Linked DNA regions of Homo sapiens. The main gene of each other region encodes a partner of the protein of the gene in region 3 in a complex. Each region holds a gene or a part of one and is shown on either strand. Other genes may lie near its edges. The genes, in order: CYFIP1, EIF4EBP2 and EIF4E. A codon is read from its position in the direction of its gene.

The links.
Region 1: EIF4E (region 3) and CYFIP1 share a complex: the UniProt entries of both Homo sapiens proteins name them as parts of the CYFIP1-EIF4E-FMR1 complex.
Region 2: the proteins of EIF4E (region 3) and EIF4EBP2 are in contact, whole or in part, in a crystal structure (PDB 3AM7), measured with the Homo sapiens proteins. Residues at the interface, in NP_001959.1 of Homo sapiens: His37, Pro38, Leu39, Gln40, Val69, Trp73, Tyr76, Asn77, Leu131, Glu132, Leu135, Ile138, Gly139, Glu140, Ser141, Asp143, Asp144, Ser146, Asp147, Arg186 (codon at 3,122); in NP_004087.1 of Homo sapiens: Pro47, Thr50, Arg51, Ile52, Ile53, Tyr54, Arg56, Phe58, Leu59, Leu60, Arg62, Arg63, Asn64.

Annotation. Positions count from the first base shown.
Region 1 is NC_000015.10:22,914,320-22,921,433, forward strand, and holds part of CYFIP1 (cytoplasmic FMR1-interacting protein 1), read right to left. Parts: intron 4,540-7,114; coding exon 4,373-4,539; intron 3,617-4,372; coding exon 3,469-3,616; intron 2,995-3,468; exon of another isoform or gene 2,693-2,994; coding exon of another isoform or gene 2,312-2,692; coding exon 2,158-2,311; intron 564-2,157; coding exon 407-563; intron 1-406. UniProt on the Homo sapiens protein: Component of the CYFIP1-EIF4E-FMR1 complex which binds to the mRNA cap and mediates translational repression. In the CYFIP1-EIF4E-FMR1 complex this subunit is an adapter between EIF4E and FMR1.
Region 2 is NC_000010.11:70,421,127-70,428,240, reverse strand, and holds part of EIF4EBP2 (eukaryotic translation initiation factor 4E-binding protein 2), read right to left. Parts: intron 6,526-7,114; coding exon 6,494-6,525; 3' UTR 1-6,493.
Region 3 is NC_000004.12:98,878,776-98,884,247, reverse strand, and holds the end of EIF4E (eukaryotic translation initiation factor 4E), read left to right. Parts: intron 1-3,105; coding exon 3,106-3,220; 3' UTR 3,221-4,972; downstream 4,973-5,472. UniProt on the Homo sapiens protein: Acts in the cytoplasm to initiate and regulate protein synthesis and is required in the nucleus for export of a subset of mRNAs from the nucleus to the cytoplasm which promotes processes such as RNA capping, processing and splicing.

The DNA.
Region 1 (7,114 bases), on a different chromosome or scaffold from region 3:
GTGACTGGTTCTAGTGCCTGAGCTCTCAATTCCAGTCTGACACCAAGAAACTGGTTAGTTACTTGTATTAATCTCTAAAGCTTTACCCCAGGAAACATGATTTCTCTTTTTTTTTTTTTTATTTGGAGACAGGGTCTTGCTACGTGGCCAGGCTGGAATGCAGTGGTGCAATCCATAGCTCAATGCAGCCACAAATTTCTGTGGTAAAGCAATCCTCCCGCATCAGCCACCACACCAGGCTAAGTTTTCTCATTTTTGTAGAGACTGGGGTCTTGCTATTTTGCCCAGGCCCAGAAACTTGATTTCAAATACAATACTAAAAACAGTCCCGGCCTCTCCGCCACCTCCTCTGAGGACCCCCGGTCACCACACACAAAGGCTGGAGACAGGCCCGCAGGACACGCACTCCATCATCGATGCCTCCTTGGTCTCCAGGATGTGGTCCGTCAGGATCCAGGGCATCGACATCTCAATGGGGAACTGGATCCTCCTGCCCATGGTCAGCTCCAGGAAGAACTCTCGGAACCACAGCTGCGAAAGGTCACAGCACTGCTGCAGCGTTTCTGGGAGGGTTCAAACAACTCCATGTTATCTCCCGCAAGCAAAAAAAAACCTTTAGCAGAGATGACACAAGGGCTGTGTGCTGGGTGCCTGCTCCTCCTCGCTCAGCCCCAAGCCATGCAGCATGGACATGAGTGGGGAGGGGTCACCGGGGCCTTGCACTAGGGACAGGACCAGCTGGGCATAGCTGCAGGTAAAGCCACCTCATCAACCCTGTGAGCCCTTCAGTGGGATCCAGGGGGAAAGTGTCTTTTTTTTTTTTTTGAGACAGAGTCTATCTCACTCTGTCACCCAGGCTGGAGGTGAGTGGCGCGATCATAGCTTACTGCAGCCTTCAACTCCTGGGCTCAAGCGATCCTCCTGCCTCAGCCTCCCAAGTAGCTGAGAACACAGGCACGTGCCACCAACTGATTTTGTATTTTTTATAGAGATGGGGGTCTCGCCATGTTGCCCAGGCTGGTCTCAAACTCCCGAATTCAAGTGATTCTCCTGCCTTGGCTTCCCAAAGTGTTAGGATTAACAGGTATGAGCCACTGTGTCTTACCTAAAAATGTTCTTCTCAAAAGGAGACATAAAAACAGGACTTCTGGCTGGGCACAGTGGCTCACGCCTGTAATCCTAGCACTTTGGGAGGCCGAGGCGGGTGGATCACAAGGTCAGGAGTTTGAGACCAGCCTGGCCAACATGGTAAAACCCCATCTCTACTAAAAATACAAAAATTAGCCAGGCGCAGTGGTGAGCACCTATAATCCCAGCTACTTGGGAGGCTGAGGGAGGAGAATCTCTTGAACCTGGGAGGCGGAGCTTGCAGTGAGCTGAGATCGCCCCACTGTACTCTAGCCTGGGTGACAGAGCAAGACTTCGTCTCAACAAAAAACAAAACAAAAAAACAGGACTTCTTCACTTTCACTTAGGATAAAAACCAATGTCCAGGCTGCAGCATTAGAGGCACACTCAGGGAGGTCTGTCTAACGCAAAAATGAGACAGATTAAAAGAGCCCACACTCGAACTCCATCCTTTCATGGAGTTAACAGCAAAAGTGGTACTATTTCCTCCAATACCTCGCAGCACCCCAGCCAAGACAGCAGGGATCCTGTTCTGAGCAAGAGGTGGACAACGGAGGACTTGATGAGAACACGGGACAGACACACGGAGGGCAGAGAGCGCACCCACCGGTGGCCGGTCAAGGTGGCCGGGTGTCACCCAGGATGGGCTTGCCTGGCACAGGGCACCCGCCACCTTCCCCCCACGTCATGGTCTGCAAGGGCCATTTCTAGTATTTATCAATGCCTGTGTCTCAACTCAGGCACCAGATTACATTCGCCTGTTTCCAACCCCGCATGGGTTGAAAAGATTTTCTGTTCATGTCTCAGGGCCAGCCCGGGCTCCTCAGTTTATACCCTTGTAGGGACCACGCCCTGTGGAGCGAGCTCAGGCCAGGGACGTACAGCCACCGCCACAGAGGGCAGGACGAGTCACCGTCTGGGTGCACCAAGGGACGGGGTAGGGGGTGGTCAGGCGGGCGGAAGCATTCTAGACGGTGTTAGTGGTGTTAGGACATGCCAGGCCGGATGCTGCTCAGCAGTATCTCTTACCACTGAAATTTATCAAGTGAGTGTAGAAGAATGACTCTCGATGAAATTTTTCTATGTCCAATATGGTGGGCCCCTCAAGGCTACTTCTCAAGGTTTTCTTGGAACCACTTTTGTCTGCAATGAGGGACTCTAGCATGGTTCTCACCATGTAAAGCTGGATTATCCAAGGAAACATTTGTGGGGGAGAAAATATACATGGTACATTAGTTATGCCAAACTCAAAAAGCCCATGAGAGAAGGACTGCTCCGCTACGCCCTGGTCGGGAGGGCCCCGCACCAGCTCCCCGAGGGGTCCGGGTGCCTGTCTACGCGGCCACGTTGCTGCTGCTTTGGGGAAAGAACAACTTGTAGCGGAGCAGTTCGCCTCCGTGCCATAAACGTCAAGAGAAACAAATGATGTCTTACCACCAAAGGTTAAAAGGGGTAGGTAGGTGCACGACTGCCTCAGAAACGTGTTAACCGCATGCAAGAGCCTCTCCATGCCCAGAGACTTGAGCTGCCTGAGCAGCTCGGCAGAGCCCAAGGACTCGGCCATGGTGCGCACCAGGTAGAGCTAGACACGGACAGACAGGAGGGAGAGGCAGGAGAGAGACGTTAGTCACTCGACACACACACCCCAGGCAGGGACACGGGACGCACGCAGAGGGAGGCAGGGAGGGTGGCTGGCACCACGCACAGGCCGAGGGCCGTCCCCCTGACCCTCCTGCAGAGCCAGCAGCGTGCATTGCTGGTGACTTTCCAGAAGAGTGGCAGAAGAGATTAAAAGCCTCCGGCAGAGATGAGGGAGAAGACCAGCCCCAGGACGGAGGACAGACGCAGCGGTGTGGATTAAACCGGGTGTGAAAGTCGTGAGAAGCACCTCGGGGAGGCCTGAACACACCAGGAGAGAGGACAGTGGGCAGCTTAGGACCATGACACACGCAAGCAGCACCTCACAGTTTCCCACGCCCCATCTACAGTCATTTGCAGACCCAACGTAAAAATTATACAGACATTCAAACACCCATCAAGAAACACAGAATGAATACAGACACGTGGACTTGTGCCCACATTTTTGGGATGGGAGTTGAAATGGAGTCAGACTCCTTTTTAGTGCACATGACACATCTGACAATCAAGGCACGTCTCCTCACGCTCCCAACTCACTTGGGTGGGAAACAGAGGAGCAGCAGAAACCACAGGCGCCACTTTCTCTGCCTGAGCAGGCAGCGAGGACCTCATTTAACCCGGGCCTCACCAGCCCCACCCGCTCACAGCTCAGGGTGGGTCCCCCCAGGGAGAGGGTGCAGGCGGGGCTCAAGGGACGAGAACCTGAGTGCTGGAGGGTCCCACGGCGCGGCGTGGTACTTTTATGTCGAAGCCGCTCTTGGGGTCCTTCTCGCCCCGCAAGGCTGGGTCATTGAAGGGCTCATGCCCCGTCTCCCAGTCACACACGGTCTTCCTGATGGCCTGCAGGACACTGAACACCCCACCAAGTGATCAGCAAGGCCCAGAGGCCGAGACCTCCAGCCTCACAATCACACCATCTCCTCACCCAACTACAAGGCTCTCAGAACAGCCCCCATGAAAATACAAATTACTCTGGGGGCCATGGAGGGATGTGGTAATGGACCAGCTCAACAGGAAAGTTAAAAAGGAGTCTGCCTTCTGGAGAGTATTACTACCCCCAGAAGACTGCCCTGAGCTCCAGTTCGCATCTGTTAGCCCAGGGCAGCAGTGAGGTGGCTCTGAGTCATGCTGTGGGCAGGGAGAGGGCAGAACACAGCCTCCGCACGGAGCAGAGCTGGGCCCCGCCTGCCCGCAGCTGGCTGTCCCCAGTAACCAACAGGAATGTGAAGTCACCCACATGACCAGAGCCTGGCCATGTCTCTCGACTGGTTTGGAACACAGCCTCATCACCAACAGGGCTCCACCGTGCAGAGACCCCCATAAGGCACCATGCATGAACCACAGGCACCGCGAGCCTGGGATAAATGCACCTTGTCCCGGGGTCCTCAGACTCCCTAGACACTCGGCAGCTGACTTACTGTCCATTGTTTGGGTTAATAATTGGACCCATGCATTACTTTTAGAGGTAATTCACCAAGAGGGCATCTGAAGGTTGAAGATAAATATATTGAAATCATTTTTGAGAATTTAACGCTCCTGTTGTTTGAATCCAAGTTCATCCGAGGACGTGTGGGCACAGCGGGCACAGGGCGTGGGGAAGGCTGACCTCTGGATGACGTTCTTCTTCTTCTTGATGGCCTGCCGCAGCGGCTCCCTAAGGGTCACCTGGGAGAAGTCCTGCAGTGCGGCATAGACGGTGTGCCGGATGGCGTGGTTGAACACGCTCTCCATCCTGCCCATCAGCACCTGCAGGCCTTTGATCATGGCGATCACCTGCGGGGGACACAGCAACAGGGACGGCCCTTCTTAGGGATGGCACCAAGCCTCCTCTGCCTGGCACATGCCGGGGGCTGCTCCTCCTCGCCCACAGCACCTTACGCCCTCCCGCGTTCGTGCCCTGCAGCTGCCCTGCCCCAAAACGTCTTCTCCAAAGCCATAGTCAATGGAACTGTGCCCGCATCTGACTCCCCATCAGACCATGAGCACCTGGAGGACAGGGATGCATCTGACTCGAAACACACATGCATCCACCCCAGCACACCCTCCTGTGATGGAATTCAAATAGGAAAGAAGAAAAAGACTCAGGAAAGCAGGCATGATATTACTAGAAAAAGAAGTTACAAGAGGTTGTAGTCCAAATCCCATATTGTTCACAACAAAGGCGCAGTGAACTACCATTCACAGAAAAAGCCTGGAAGACTCTGATGGAACATAATTACATGACAAAGAGCTTCCAAAGGAATTCCTGGGACAGAAAAATGGTGCCAGGGCTCATTATTTCCCTGTTTCCAGACAGTAATTTTGTCATGACAGTGTGCTTTATTACTTTCTGAATAAACAATTGAAGGTCACAAACCAAGTATGACCTTTACAATTGCATGAGCTTTCTTACGGCTTTTGCCGTTTATAAATATTTCTACAGCCAACTTCATGATAGCTATGTGAGGCCTAGAAATCTCTCTGAAAGCAGCAAGTGAGGCAGAGCAAGACACACTTACCCCAAGTCCACCCTGCCGTGTGGATGTCTGACATATAAGACACCAAAGTGGAACATTTAATAGCACCAGTGAAACATAATTCACTTCTTTTTATCTTTTAACTAGAACGCTGTACCTAAGACTAATACATTTGGGAAAATCTTAACAACCCTTCTTTGGCCAGGCACAGTGGCTCACACCCATAATCCTGGCACTTTGGGAGGCTGAGGCGGGAGAATCACTTGAGACCAGAGTTCAAGATCAGCCCGAACAAAATGGCCAGACCCCATCTCTACAAAAAATTTAAAAATTAGCCAGGTGTGGTGGCATGAGCCTATAGTCCCAGCTACTCGGGAGGCTAAGCCAGGAGGATCACTTGAGCCTAGGAGTTCGAGGCTGCAGTGAGCCATGACTATGCCACTGCTCTCCAGCCTGGGTGACAGAGCGAGACCCTGTCTCAAAACAAAACAAAACAAAAACCCTACTTCAACATCTGAAAATGGTCTTCAGTCCACAGTAATAAAAAAAAACAAAAAACAAACAAACAAAAAAAACCTTTTGAAATTAAGTATTTGACAGATTCAAAATTAAGGCAGCTTTTTTTTTTTTTTTTTTTTTTTGAGACAGGGTCTCACTCTGTTGCCCAGACTGGAGTGCAGTGGCATGATCATAGCTCACTGCAGCCTTGAACTCCCAGGGTCAATCGATCCTCCTGCCTCAGCCTCCTGGGTAACTAGTTCTATAAGCATGCACTACCATGCTTGGCTAGGCATCTTCCTACTTTTATTAAATCTGTTGGTTTGAAGTTCACTTAGCAAGAACACAAATGTGTTTCCCCAAGGCTTCACACAGTCTCCCTCTATCACTTTCTGGTTTTATTCACACCTTTTGAGTTCCTCATTATGGCTTTATAAACAGCCTGATTCATGGGTAAATGAAGACGTGTCTGACAAGTACTTGAAACATGGCTTATATGATTTTGGTGCTTTTCTTTTTCATGAAATTTTCAGGTGGAAAAGTTGACAGTCTGCTTTTAATTCATCCTTCTATAACGTAAAGAATTTCCAAATAGACTGCTTTCATGTAAGACTCATGGTCTATATGCAATTAAAATAATGAAAATTTTAGAAAGGAAAAAGTCTGGAAGAAAACGCACCCAGCTGCTCAGCGCCATCTCTGTGATGGCGCCGCAGGCACTGTGCCTTCCTAATGCCATGCTTGTGTTTTCAGCATGCTTACTTTGGAAAACTGATGATTTTATATTGTTTTTCCAATCAACAAAAAAGAAAAGTTCTATTTAAAAAACCAAACGAGGAAAAACCCATTTAAGTGAACATAACAATCCTACATATTCACACTTACAGGAAGAAGGAAAAGGCAAGTTAACAGCAAACTGAGAGCTTTAGATGCACGCATTAGAAAACTAAAAAGGATAAAAATCATAATACTTATCAAACATTCATCACTAATTTATAGAAAACAGCAAAATAAACCCCCCCAAAATCGAAGAAAAATAACTAAAAGCACCCGGGCGCAGTGGCTCATGCCTGTAATCCCAGTATTTTGGGAGGCCGAGGCAGGCGGATCACAAGGTCAGGAGTTCGAGACCAGCCTGGCCAATATGGTGAAACCCCGTCTCTACTAAAAATACAAAAATTAGCCTGGTGTGGTGGTGCACACCTGTAGTCCCAGCTACTTGGGAGGCTAAGGCAGGAGAACTGCTTGAAACTGGGAGGTGGAGGTTGCAGTGAGCTGAGATGGCGTCACTACACTCCAGCCTAGGTGACACAGCGAGACTCTGTCTCAAAAATAAATAAATAAATAAATAAATAAATAAATAAATGTAACAATGAAACAGAAAACAAGTGTAT
Region 2 (7,114 bases), on a different chromosome or scaffold from region 3:
ACGTGAGTGTCCTCTGGGCTCTTCAAGACACCTTCTTTAAGGTTTACCCCTGGAGTAGCAGAGGGTCTCCTCACCCAGGTGGAAAGAGATGGGCTCCATCTGCAGATGAAGGAAAGGCACTGGCGCACAGCACTCAGCAATGTAGATACAGGCACCAGGTAGGAGCAGGATGGCTTACCCAGCAACCTGCCTCTTAGCTCCCTGCTAGTGTTCTTCCCTCCTCCCCAGTTTCCAGTTAAAAGTACCCTTGGCCTGGGCTTTAAAAAAAAAAAAAAAAAAAAGATTAAGCTGGAGAGAAAGGGGATACACTTGGGCAAGAATGGATATTTTGTGCTAGATTCATGGAATTTTCTAAGTGTCCAGGAGTTTTGGTTTTAAGCACCGGCAAGAGCTCCCTTTGGAAATTTCAGTGTGGCCAAATGATTATCAAGCATTGCAGCATCTCTGCCAGCCTCCCACCCTTAGAAAGGTGGCAGAGTGAGAGTTTAAATACCCTTGGAAATGTGTTTCATCTCAGTAATATTTCCACTGGGTATCCATGACATACAGTATGGTCTGCCAGGGCTGCAGGCAGAGAGCCATAAGCAAAGAGAATCCACAGACCCGCTGAACAGGGACTCAAGCCTTCTCCTAAATCTAAGCTTTGCCAAAAGGTTATCAACTTCCAGGACCAGCCTAGAGAAATAAATTTAAATTCCAGAGAGTAGGCTAGGTGATGTAAGTGACTGACTGAAAAAACAAGTATCAATAACTCTTAAAGTTTTCAGTTAGAAATTTCTGTAAGTTAGCCTCAAGAAACTCCACTACTAAACTGGAAAACCATGACTAGGAACAGGAAGCGGCCCTGGGGTAGAAGCATTCTAAAGAATTGTGACCCAACTGCATCAATATCTGATTTCATCTTTTATTAAAAGCTGAGAGTTAAAGAACTGTAGGGATAACTAAGTCCACCTCAAAGTCCAGACAGAAACTGCCCTCCCAAAGAAACAATGTTTCTTTAAAACAAATACCACACCTTCCCAGATATTATGGGTAGGTAAGTGACTAGGTTTTGCAGATTAATCTATAGCTGCCCATGTGCATGTAGTCCAGAAAACATGCCAAGAAGGAAGAGCTCTGAACCAGACACAGAAAGGCAGTGTGGCTTCCTCGCTCAAGGGGAATGCAAAGGGCTAAGAGCCCTGGCTTCAAGCAGCTGTTATCCTAGATGAGGAAAATGCAAACAGATTCAATCTCTGGGATATTGCTGCCAACATGCTAAGCCCTTCACCAGTTGCCTTGATTCGAAGCAGTTCCTCTATGTATACTGGCTAAATGATGGACTCCGGCAGTGAAACCCACATACTCAGCAGGCTGCATTCTAATGAGAATGAAGGAATTTAACTAATGGTGTTTGAGCTGGAAAGGTAAGGTCTGAGAGTCCCAGTGAGCTGGAAACCCAAAAAAAGAGAAGACCAATCCACCTCAAAATAAGAAAGAAAAACAAAATTCATTTAAAGGTACTCTAAAGATGAGTTCTTTACTTCTGGAAGAAGAATCCTTTTCTTATAGCTCCCTCAACAGCAATACTTCTTATCCAAGTATACTCTCAAGCAAGCAGGGCTACAGATAAGAAAATGCTGGGAAGAGGCAGAGCATAAATCCAAACAAGAATTTGCATCTTTGGCCAGGCGCGGTGGCTCGCGCCTGTAATCCCAGCACTTTGGGAGGCTGAGGTGGGCGGATCACTTGAGGCCAGGAGTTCGAGACCAGCCTGGCAAACATGATGAAACCCCATCTCTACTAAAAATATAGAAATAAAAATTAGCCAGGCATAGTGGTACATGCCTGTAATCCCAGCTACTCGGAAGGCTGAGGCAGGAGAAACACTTGAACCTGGGAAGCAGAGGCTGCAGTGAGCTGAGATCGCACCACTGCACTCCAGCACCCCAGCCTGGGCGACAGGGCGCAACTCTTGTCTCAGAAAAAAAGAAAGAAAGAAAGAAAGAAAAAGATATTGCATCTTTAAGGTCATCTGAAATCTCTAAAGACTTGGTTAGGAATGAGTGCCAGAAACACATAGCAGCCATTCACTAGAATGTCTTAAACTGAAAAACTTCATGTAAGTTTGTCTTTAGCATGAACACAAGACCAGTTATTTAAGAACACATTGCCATCAAGAAGCCCAGGAAGAAATGGGCATGCAGGGTTAACCTATGCACTGGATTTAGAGGAGCAATCAAGCATAGACATTTGTAATTCTCAGATGTTCTCTATTTTATTGAGTGGTTGCTTCCTGGGTGAGAGACCTGACCTGAGTCTGTTGAGACTGGAGAGACCAGGTACCAAGCACCGACTCTGGTGGGAACCTGGCTTCCTGATAACATCATCTATTTCACCTAAATGTGAACTGCTTTCTTTTCTTCAGCTCAATAGCTTAACATCTAATTCATGTTTGCTCCCTTTGCTGGACAATCCCCATTCCAAATAAGACAGGTTTAGTGGCTCGGCTGGAAGGCCCCAGTTCCTTTTGCTAACTCCTAGCTACAGGAAAATAAAAGTGGTAACTGAGTCTTACAGACACCAAGTCTAGGATGTGCAAATAAGCATACTTGAGCTGTTGGTAGTCAGGCATATTATTTTCTACTACTCCTGGGAATTGCCATGTCTTACCACCCCTCTCAAAACCAGCAGGTAGCTTTGGGGAGTTTGCCTTCTATCCCAGTTTGGCTATGCACATCTTGGAGAACTGTTTTTGATAGCAATCTATCTTTCAGCTTATCTAGATTAAACCTACCTCCCTGTTGACCTACTTTCATCCCCAGTTGGGGTGTGGTGCTTTTAAGATATGTCCATAAATTCTTTGCTACTGCTCCATTGGGGTAGAGGTATGTGTAATTCCTCTCTCCTTGAGTGCAGGCTGAACTTAGTGGCTTGCTTCTAACAACTAGGATAAGAAGTGACGGTGTGTCCTTTCCAAGACTATGTCTTAAAAGGCACTGCAGCTTTCTCCTGGCCCTGCCCCATGATCTCTGGAATCAGCTGCTCAGGGAGAAGCCAGGTGTCATGGTGTGAGGACACTCATGCTGCCCTACGCAGAGACCCACATGGGAAGAAACTGAGGCATCCTGCCAACGGCCACAAAGAGAGAACTTGGAAGTGGTTTCTCCAGCTCCAGCTGACTGCAGCCCCTGTTCAATCTTGACTGTAACTTCATGATACCATGGGCCAGAACCATCATGTTAAACTACTCCCAAATTCTTAACCCACAGAAACTGACAGATAATGTTTACTATTTTAACATACTAAATTTAGGGTAATTTTTTACACAGCAATAGATAACTAATACAGGTGGAAGGACAAAACTCTTGGCTTGGAAGCCCAATACCTAGAAAGCCAGCTTCTCTGTATCTGTGCCCTTGAAAATGCTGTACCTATTTAAACAGAATATGAGAACTGCTGAACTCAATAAACCACACTAAAAAGAAGACAGAATCATGACAATGCATGTCTGCTGTTGGAATTTGAAGGGAAGTCACTTCTCATTAAGCTCGATTGTCCGCCCAAGTATAGAAGCATGGGTTCCTCATAAAAAGAAAACTACAAATGGTCACTAAGATGTTAAGAGCTGTCTCAAAGTGGTAACTTAAGAGTGCTCCTTCTCTCTAAAAAACCCCGGACACATTATTCATTAAGGGTTTCATCTGTGAGGTTCCCTCCAAACATGCAGAGGTAAACCACTCAATGGACTCTGGCTTGTTCTAAAAATAATTCCATGAGGCATGACACAAAGGTATCATCTATTGAAAGTTTATCTCATGCCTTGTGAAATTATTTTTTAAATGCCAATTTATCTCCATAAGATAAAAGAAAGACTGTCTAGTAGTGGTGGCCTCTGGGAAAGAACTGCACCAAGCTGTAAGGAAGTCCTTGCAGAGAAGGGTAAGGGATTGAACAGCTGCTGCATTATACAGCTGACACTCCCAAGAAATACTAAAAACATGCCTTCTGATTAGGGGGTCACATGCAGAAGCTCCCCAAGACAGCAAGAAAAAGGAAAATGGCATCTTGATACTACTAAAGCTCATGCTTTAAATCCATTCCTCACCGTTCAGTGAGGAAGCCAAGTTTTCACACATAGCAATAAAGATCAAGAAGAGTTCACTCTTCTGCTCACTGACAGACTGACTAGCTGCTAGTTGGGTCAAATTCCACAGGATGCCAAGGCCAGTGTATGAAGAATGAAAAGCTTCATTCCCAAAGAATCAGGCTCCCCGGGGTACAAAGAGGTCCTGAGCATGCTTCTTATGTAAATTACAGAGCAACTTAGGTTTTTCCAAGAATATGTAAAATGAGACTTGGAGTTTAATTAAAAACAGAACAGGGATACATTAAACAAACAAACAAAAATTACTTTTCTGATTATCAATTTTTTTTGAGACTCAAAGCATCCCCAAAACATTGGAGATCCAGCTTATTCCTGAGACATCAACCATCACAAAAGGTTTTCACTCTGAACTATTCACATTTTTGTGGCAGAAAACAGAACAAAGTTCTGCAGACATCCTTCCTCTCTTTCTAAAATATATTCACAAACAGGGTCTTTTCATAGTTCAAAAGAAAAACAAACAGGTTTCTTTCTTGGCCAAATGGCCTGTTACTCTCACCCTGGGATCTGATTTCTTAATAAAAAAGTTCAGGGCACCAAATCCAACCAGAAATTCCCAGGACACCAGTGGCTACTTAACTATGAGGGGATGGATGCTTTTGTCTTTCTATGAGGGGAATCATTCTCCCGGGATTATTATGCTGCTCAACAGCCCCAGGACAGGTAGGTGGGAAGGAGGGTGAATGCAAAAGCGAAAGGGTCACAGAAAAGAATGAGGCTTTCTTGAACAACCCATAGCAAGGCAGAATGGTCCAGTTTTACAAACCACCCACTACAAACTCCAAACATGCACACCCAAAACTAGAGGGGAAAGGAAAGAGCTCCTGGGGGACTAGGGGAGACAAAAGATGGTGACATAGAACAGCAGACTTGCCTATGAACGTTTCTCAACTTCCTAACACTGGAAGATGTTTAATTAAAAAGTTGCTGTTCAAAATTGTACTGAAAACATATCTAAAAATAGGTCTGTAGTCATCTTAAAAATAAAAGGTCACTTCTCAGATAAGAGGAGTGACAGATATTCTCAGATACCAACACTTCAGGTATCTTTGATGTAAATTTGAAAAATGGCCTGGTAGAGAAAAAGGAAGGAAAGGAAGGAGAGAGGAAGAAAGTGAGGGAGGTAGGGAGAGAAATTCAGAGTACAACAGGAAAGGCAAGAAAACTGGGAGGAACACATTTTTTAAGCCCATGCTTATCTATCCCAGCAGCCAAACAAAGCAGATCCACAAAGGAAAAAAATGCAGTTCTTTTCTAAGAACATTCTGAAAATCAACTTCAAACTCAAAACATAAGAAACTGCAATCTAAGAACAACTACCACAATGCTCACTGGACTTAAAAATGACGACTGAGACCGGGTACTCAAATGGGTCAACGTTCTTCAGCGGTCATTCTTAGGCATTATCTGACAGAATACTATGATCAGGCCTTACCCACCAAGTGGAAGCTAAAGTGCCTCTATTACTTGGTATGGACCTGCTCTAGGAGCAGACAAAATCACTTTGCTTTCTTGAAGTACAAGAGGACTCTGCCAGCAACGAGATGCAAGCAGGGAGGAGTGGCAGAAGAAGAGCAAAACTGGTTACCAAGGGCTCTCTTCTGATGTACAGAGTTAAAAATATCTGCACAAATGCACTAAGTAAAAGAATGGGAAGATGAACTATAATACCAAAGACAGAAGACATTCCTCCCAGAGGAAAGAAAGGAAGTGGACCTCAAAACAGTGTCACAGGGTAACGCTACCAGAGTTGCACAAGCTGTGCTCTGTCCCGAGGGACGAATACCTCAAGGTAAAAGGGAAAGCAGCTCTCTTTTTATCATTTCCCCCTGCTGGTTTTAAAGACCCCAAGCCCAGACTCTTGCAACACTGAACCATAGGTGGGATACAGGGAGGAGAGACAGAGGGTAAGGAATATGAATGGTGTTAGGCCCACCAAGCTCTGTATCCCTTCCCCAGACTTCCCAGCCAGGCAGTTGTTGGTAGGTTGATATTTGATTTGGGACAAAATTACAGGGTATGAGGGTGGCTCTCAATAAAAAAACAACTAGGAAAGTCAGAGTTGAACTGTTTTCCTCTAAGGGCTGCTTAGCTCTACAGAAATACAGCAAGGGCCTTCAATCTAACCTGTTTAACTGGGAAGGGGAACAGGAGACAGGGAGAAGAAATGGTCAGATGAAGCTCATCTTCCCATCATTTGGCACCCAGAGGAAGACGGGGAGGTGGAGACTGTAATGGGGACTGCTGGTATTGCCTCTTCTGTCTTTTCACTGTTGATCCTATTGGCCAAATCAGGTGCACACAAGTATCAGTGTTGCTGCTTTTCTTCTAATCCTTGCAGGAGAGTCAGATGTCCATCTCGAACTGAGCATCATCCCCTAGTTAGGACCAATAAAATGAAGAGTTTAGCACGTACACAAAGAAGCATAACAGTTTTAACTGTCATTCCCTCTAAATGAGAGACAAAAAGTAATTCAAATTGTCCCACTCTCTGCTGCCTTAAAACAATTACTCTGCTTTGCTTTGGCTGGTCTTAATCTGAAAAATAAGAATGGCAGTCCCATCACCCATGGGGAGAAGTTTTGGGGAAAAGGACACAAGTGAAAACATCCCCATTGTCCCTTTGTCTTCAGGATGACTAAACAGCAGCTCTTGGGGAGCTCTTTGCCATCTCTCAGGGGAGCACATTCTTCTGGAGGCTTTGGACTTTGGCCCTGCTCCAAACTAACACTTTGTCCATTAAAAAACTCATCTGAAATATGACAAAGCGGAATGCTGGCCCCCATCTAGGGGTCACCAAGTGCAGTCCCTGAGGAATATTTCAGGAGCTGGCCACTCCTACCGCACCATTCTGCTTCTACAGTGATAAAGAAAAAAAGAATGTGTTGGAGGAGGGGTAATTTAGGTAAACCTTAAACGCAGTTCTGGAAAATAGAGGAAATAAACCATACCGCTTTTCCTCACACC
Region 3 (5,472 bases):
AATGTATGCTCATAATAATAATTCAGTGATTATTGGCAAATAGTATATGTGCATTTAAAGCATGTGTGTTTACTACGTATAATTTTCATTAAAATTTATATAACATATCTTGGTTTTTGTTCCATGTTTAAAACCCACATATGTAGGGTTTTATTAAACCTTTTTTTGTAAATTTTATTCTTTGCAAAAGTGGCTTTTTTTTTTTTTTTGAGACAGGGTCTCACTGTGTTATTCAGGCAAGAGTGCAGTGGTGCAGTCATGGCTCACTTCAGCCTCAACCTCCTGGGCTCAGGTGATACTCCTACCTCAGCCACCCAATTAGCTGCAACTACAGGTGTGTATGACCACACCTGGCTATTTTCTTGTATTTTTTGTAGAGAAGAGGTTTTGCCATGTTGCCCAGACTGGTCATGAACTCCTGGACTTGATCAAGCCACCTCAGCCTTTCAAAGTGCTGAGATTACAGGCGTGAGCCACCATGCTAAACCAGCTGACATTTTTTTTCTAAGATTTCTTTTTACCTCAATTATATTAGTAATATTTGACACCAGGCGCAGTGGCTCACACCTGTAATCGCAGCACTTTGGGAGGCTGAGGCAGGTGGATCACAAGGTCAGGAGATTGAGACCATCCTGGCCAACACGGTGAAACCCCGTCTCTACTAAAAATACAAAAAAAACAATTAGCTGGGCGTGGTGGCGGGCGCCTGTAGTTCCAGCTACTTGGGAGACTGAGGCAGGAGAATGGCATGAACCCGGGAGGCGGAGCTTGCAGTGAGCCAAGATTGGGCCACTGCGCTCCAGCCTGGGAGACAGAGCGAGACTGTCTCACAAAAAAAAAAAAAAAAAAAAAAATTTGACTTACAATTTTATGTTAAAATTAAGTGCTGGTCAGTCAGTGGTCAAAATGTTTGGTTTGCCCCTTTGTGATTTTTCAAATATTATTAATTTTTCTTTTTAAAATTAATTAATTTTTTGAGACAGAGTCACACTCTGTTGCCCAGGCTGGGGTGCAGTAGCGCGATGTCAGCTCACTGCAACCTCCACCTCTTGGGTTCAAGTGATTCTCTTGCCTCAGCCTCCTGAATAGCTGGGACCACAGGCCTGAACCACTGCAGTAGTTTTTGTAGAGACAGGGTTTCGCCATGTTGGCCAGGCTGGTGTCAAACTCCTAGCCTCAAGTCATCCACCTGCCTCAGCCTCCCAAAGTGCTGGGATTTCAGGCGTGATCCATTGCTCTCAGCCATGTAAATTTTTATGTGAACATAATTTATTTCTGGATCAAAAGGTATAGGGATTTTCTACATTTCATGCTATATGGGGTTCCATAAGAGAAAAGAGTTGATTTGTCATCATATTTTAATGTTTCTTCCAGCATCAAAACCTAATTTTGGAGGATTTACTTTTTTTTTTTTTAAATGAGTTAAATTAAGAATTTTTTTCCTACGGAAGTTTTGTATTTTTGTCAATATTAAATGTTTTTGAGTGTATATTAAGACTTCAGATTTTCAAACGAAGATTTTCTTTTTTAACCTTCCAATTTGCATGACTCAATGGTCTTGCTTTTTGACATTTTTAATAATTAAGTATAATTGAAAGGAATGCATTGCATTATAATGCAAATTTGATAATTAACACTTTAGTTACCATAAAATTACTTTTTAATACCTTATTTTAGGGGGAAGGTAGTAAATCTTCTGGAAGGTATAAAAAAAACCTATCCTAGTATCATGTTGGAGGATTTAACTCCATTAATATCTTTATTCCTTTATTTTTATTTGATTTTTGCTTATTTTTGAATTTTTACTATTTTTTTCCTAAAGATTCTTTTTTCTTTTTTTTTTTTTTTTTTGAGACGGAGTCTTGCTCTGTCACCCAGGCTGGAGTGCAGTGGCACAGTCTCACTCAAGCTCACTGCAAGCTCTGCCTCCCAGGTTCACGCCATTCTCCTGCCTCAGCCTCCCGAGTTGCTGGGACTACAGGCACCTGCCACCACACCCGGCTAATTTTTTGTATTTTTAGTAGAGGCGGGGTTTCACCATGTTAGCCAGGATGGTCTCGATCTCCTGACCTCGTGATCCGCCCGCCTCGGCCTCCCAAAGTGCTGGGATTACAGGCGTGAGCCACCGCGCCCAGCCAAAGATTCAAATTTTTAAGATGACCTATGAAGCTCTCTGTGATCTTCCTCTGAAACCTTGTCAGCTTTATCTCATGTTCACTTTACTTACAAGCCATAGCCACACAGCCTAATTTTTATTTCTCAGCTTTCAAATGTGCTCATTCTCTTAACATTATCCTTTTGACCTCGTGATATTTAAAGGGGAAGACTTCTCTAATGTTGTAGATGAGATTAGAATCTCCTTGTTATACAGTATCACAGCCCTTATGTTTACTCTTTGGCACTCATGACAAGTGCCATTTTATTCTTGCAATAGAGTCATGTCTTACTTGAAAATTAGGTTGTAAAGTTAGTATGTAAAGCAGAAATTACATTCTCCCTCGAAGTGTTTCATTCACTCCCTCGAAGTGTTTAATCTCCCTCAAAGTGTTTAGTTTTTGTTTGTGCAGTCTTATAACAGGTATGGTTAATATAATTTGTGTAGTAATATACAATATTTGCTAGGGTTCAGACGTGAAATGTAACATTTTAGATCAAAGAATGAAACATGTTTGTTTTACAGATTTCTGTTTTTAAGTATGCATGTGATACAGGTCTGTCATGTATTTGTGATTATTTGATTATGTTTTCTCTACTAGACTATAAATGCAGTCAGCTCAGGGACTGTCCTTACTTTGTTCACTGTTGATTTAGTAATAATTATAGTATCATAATAAATAACAATATAATAATATAGTAATGCTCCTGTAATTTAGTAATAACATACCTGACTCGCTCTCAAATATTTTAAAAGTAATTAACCAAGAATATCGCAAAAATGAAGAGTAAATTGTGCTGAAAGGAAAAGGGTGTATAATTAATTTCCTATTTTATTCTCAAGTCTATGTTTTTTAATATAAAGACTAATAACCCTAAATTTTTAAATGTATTTCTTGTGAGTAAAAGTTAATGACTACTTTTTTCTTCTTCTTTTTTTTTTTCTTCTAGGAGGGTATACAAGGAAAGGTTAGGACTTCCTCCAAAGATAGTGATTGGTTATCAGTCCCACGCAGACACAGCTACTAAGAGCGGCTCCACCACTAAAAATAGGTTTGTTGTTTAAGAAGACACCTTCTGAGTATTCTCATAGGAGACTGCGTCAAGCAATCGAGATTTGGGAGCTGAACCAAAGCCTCTTCAAAAAGCAGAGTGGACTGCATTTAAATTTGATTTCCATCTTAATGTTACTCAGATATAAGAGAAGTCTCATTCGCCTTTGTCTTGTACTTCTGTGTTCATTTTTTTTTTTTTTTTTGGCTAGAGTTTCCACTATCCCAATCAAAGAATTACAGTACACATCCCCAGAATCCATAAATGTGTTCCTGGCCCACTCTGTAATAGTTCAGTAGAATTACCATTAATTACATACAGATTTTACCTATCCACAATAGTCAGAAAACAACTTGGCATTTCTATACTTTACAGGAAAAAAAATTCTGTTGTTCCATTTTATGCAGAAGCATATTTTGCTGGTTTGAAAGATTATGATGCATACAGTTTTCTAGCAATTTTCTTTGTTTCTTTTTACAGCATTGTCTTTGCTGTACTCTTGCTGATGGCTGCTAGATTTTAATTTATTTGTTTCCCTACTTGATAATATTAGTGATTCTGATTTCAGTTTTTCATTTGTTTTGCTTTTGTTTTTTTCCTCATGTAACATTGGTGAAGGATCCAGGAATATGACACAAAGGTGGAATAAACATTAATTTTGTGCATTCTTTGGTAATTTTTTTTGTTTTTTGTAACTACAAAGCTTTGCTACAAATTTATGCATTTCATTCAAATCAGTGATCTATGTTTGTGTGATTTCCTAAACATAATTGTGGATTATAAAAAATGTAACATCATAATTACATTCCTAACTAGAATTAGTATGTCTGTTTTTGTATCTTTATGCTGTATTTTAACACTTTGTATTACTTAGGTTATTTTGCTTTGGTTAAAAATGGCTCAAGTAGAAAAGCAGTCCCATTCATATTAAGACAGTGTACAAAACTGTAAATAAAATGTGTACAGTGAATTGTCTTTTAGACAACTAGATTTGTCCTTTTATTTCTCCATCTTTATAGAAGGAATTTGTACTTCTTATTGCAAGGCAGTCTCTATATTATGTCTTCTTTTGTGGTGTCTTCCATGTGAACAGCATAAGTTTGGAGCACTAGTTTGATTATTATGTTTATTACAATTTTTAATAAATTGAATAGGTAGTATCATATATATGGAATTAAATTGATGTGGCTATCTTTGTTTTTTTATAAAGTAAGGCACAGTCATTCAGTCTTAGGTAAATAATGTACTCTCTTAATATGTTAATACTCATGAGAATTGGGATCTGATGCATCACCATTTGATTGGTAGCAACAGTGGTTGTAAAACTTGGTTGCTGAATTGAGTTGTTTCTATGTTAAGTGTCAAAATGATAGTGTAGGGAAAGTACAGGTGGTGGGGACATATGCATTAAGAATCTTGTTAGTGTTGCAATCTAAATAGAATGGAATAAACAGGTGTTAAGACATATTTATAGTGGTAAATTGTTGTAGTATGGTATTCTGTAAACTTGAAAACTTGATCTACTCTTTGTAGGTATCATTTGAAAGCAAACTTGAAAATGTTTTGTACATAGTACATACTTGTATAGTCCTGTGAGATGAAGTATGGCTATCAGACCAAAGGATAAGCCAAACTGTAGGTAGCAGAATGGAAATTATTATTTTGAGAGGAAAATTTGTCTTTGAATGGTGATTATGACTTAATCATTTTAAAACTGATAAACTTGACAAAAACCCTGTATGAAATAAACATGAAATTAATAGCACTGATTTCATTGTAAAATTTTAAAGCAGTTTAAAGGGTACCACAGGTTATCACAGTACTCTCAATGCCACAAACACCTCTTGTTCAGTATTCTAGAAATACTGAATCAGAATTCTGTGTTTATTATAATCTCAGCATACTGTACATAATATCTGCTAGTTAAACTTGGGTAATTGGTTAAGGTGACTTACTGTCTATGTCAATATGTATAGTTTTGAGTACTTCAAGAGTTTACTTAAAAGTGATGATGTTACTGGTATGTTGGCAGTGGGTGGGACTGAAGTAGTGTATCTATTATAAATTGATCTATTTTCTTAATTCTAAGATGAAGTCCAATTTTAAGCATCAGCTTTTAGGTGCAAAGGAGGAATTAACACATTAAATGTATACAGTTCTAAATTTTTGAAATAACTGATGTGTAGCATTTGATTATTGGTATTACCATTTTAGAATCATGATGTTATTTTAAACCTTTTTCCTGGGGACAAGAAAGGATAATAA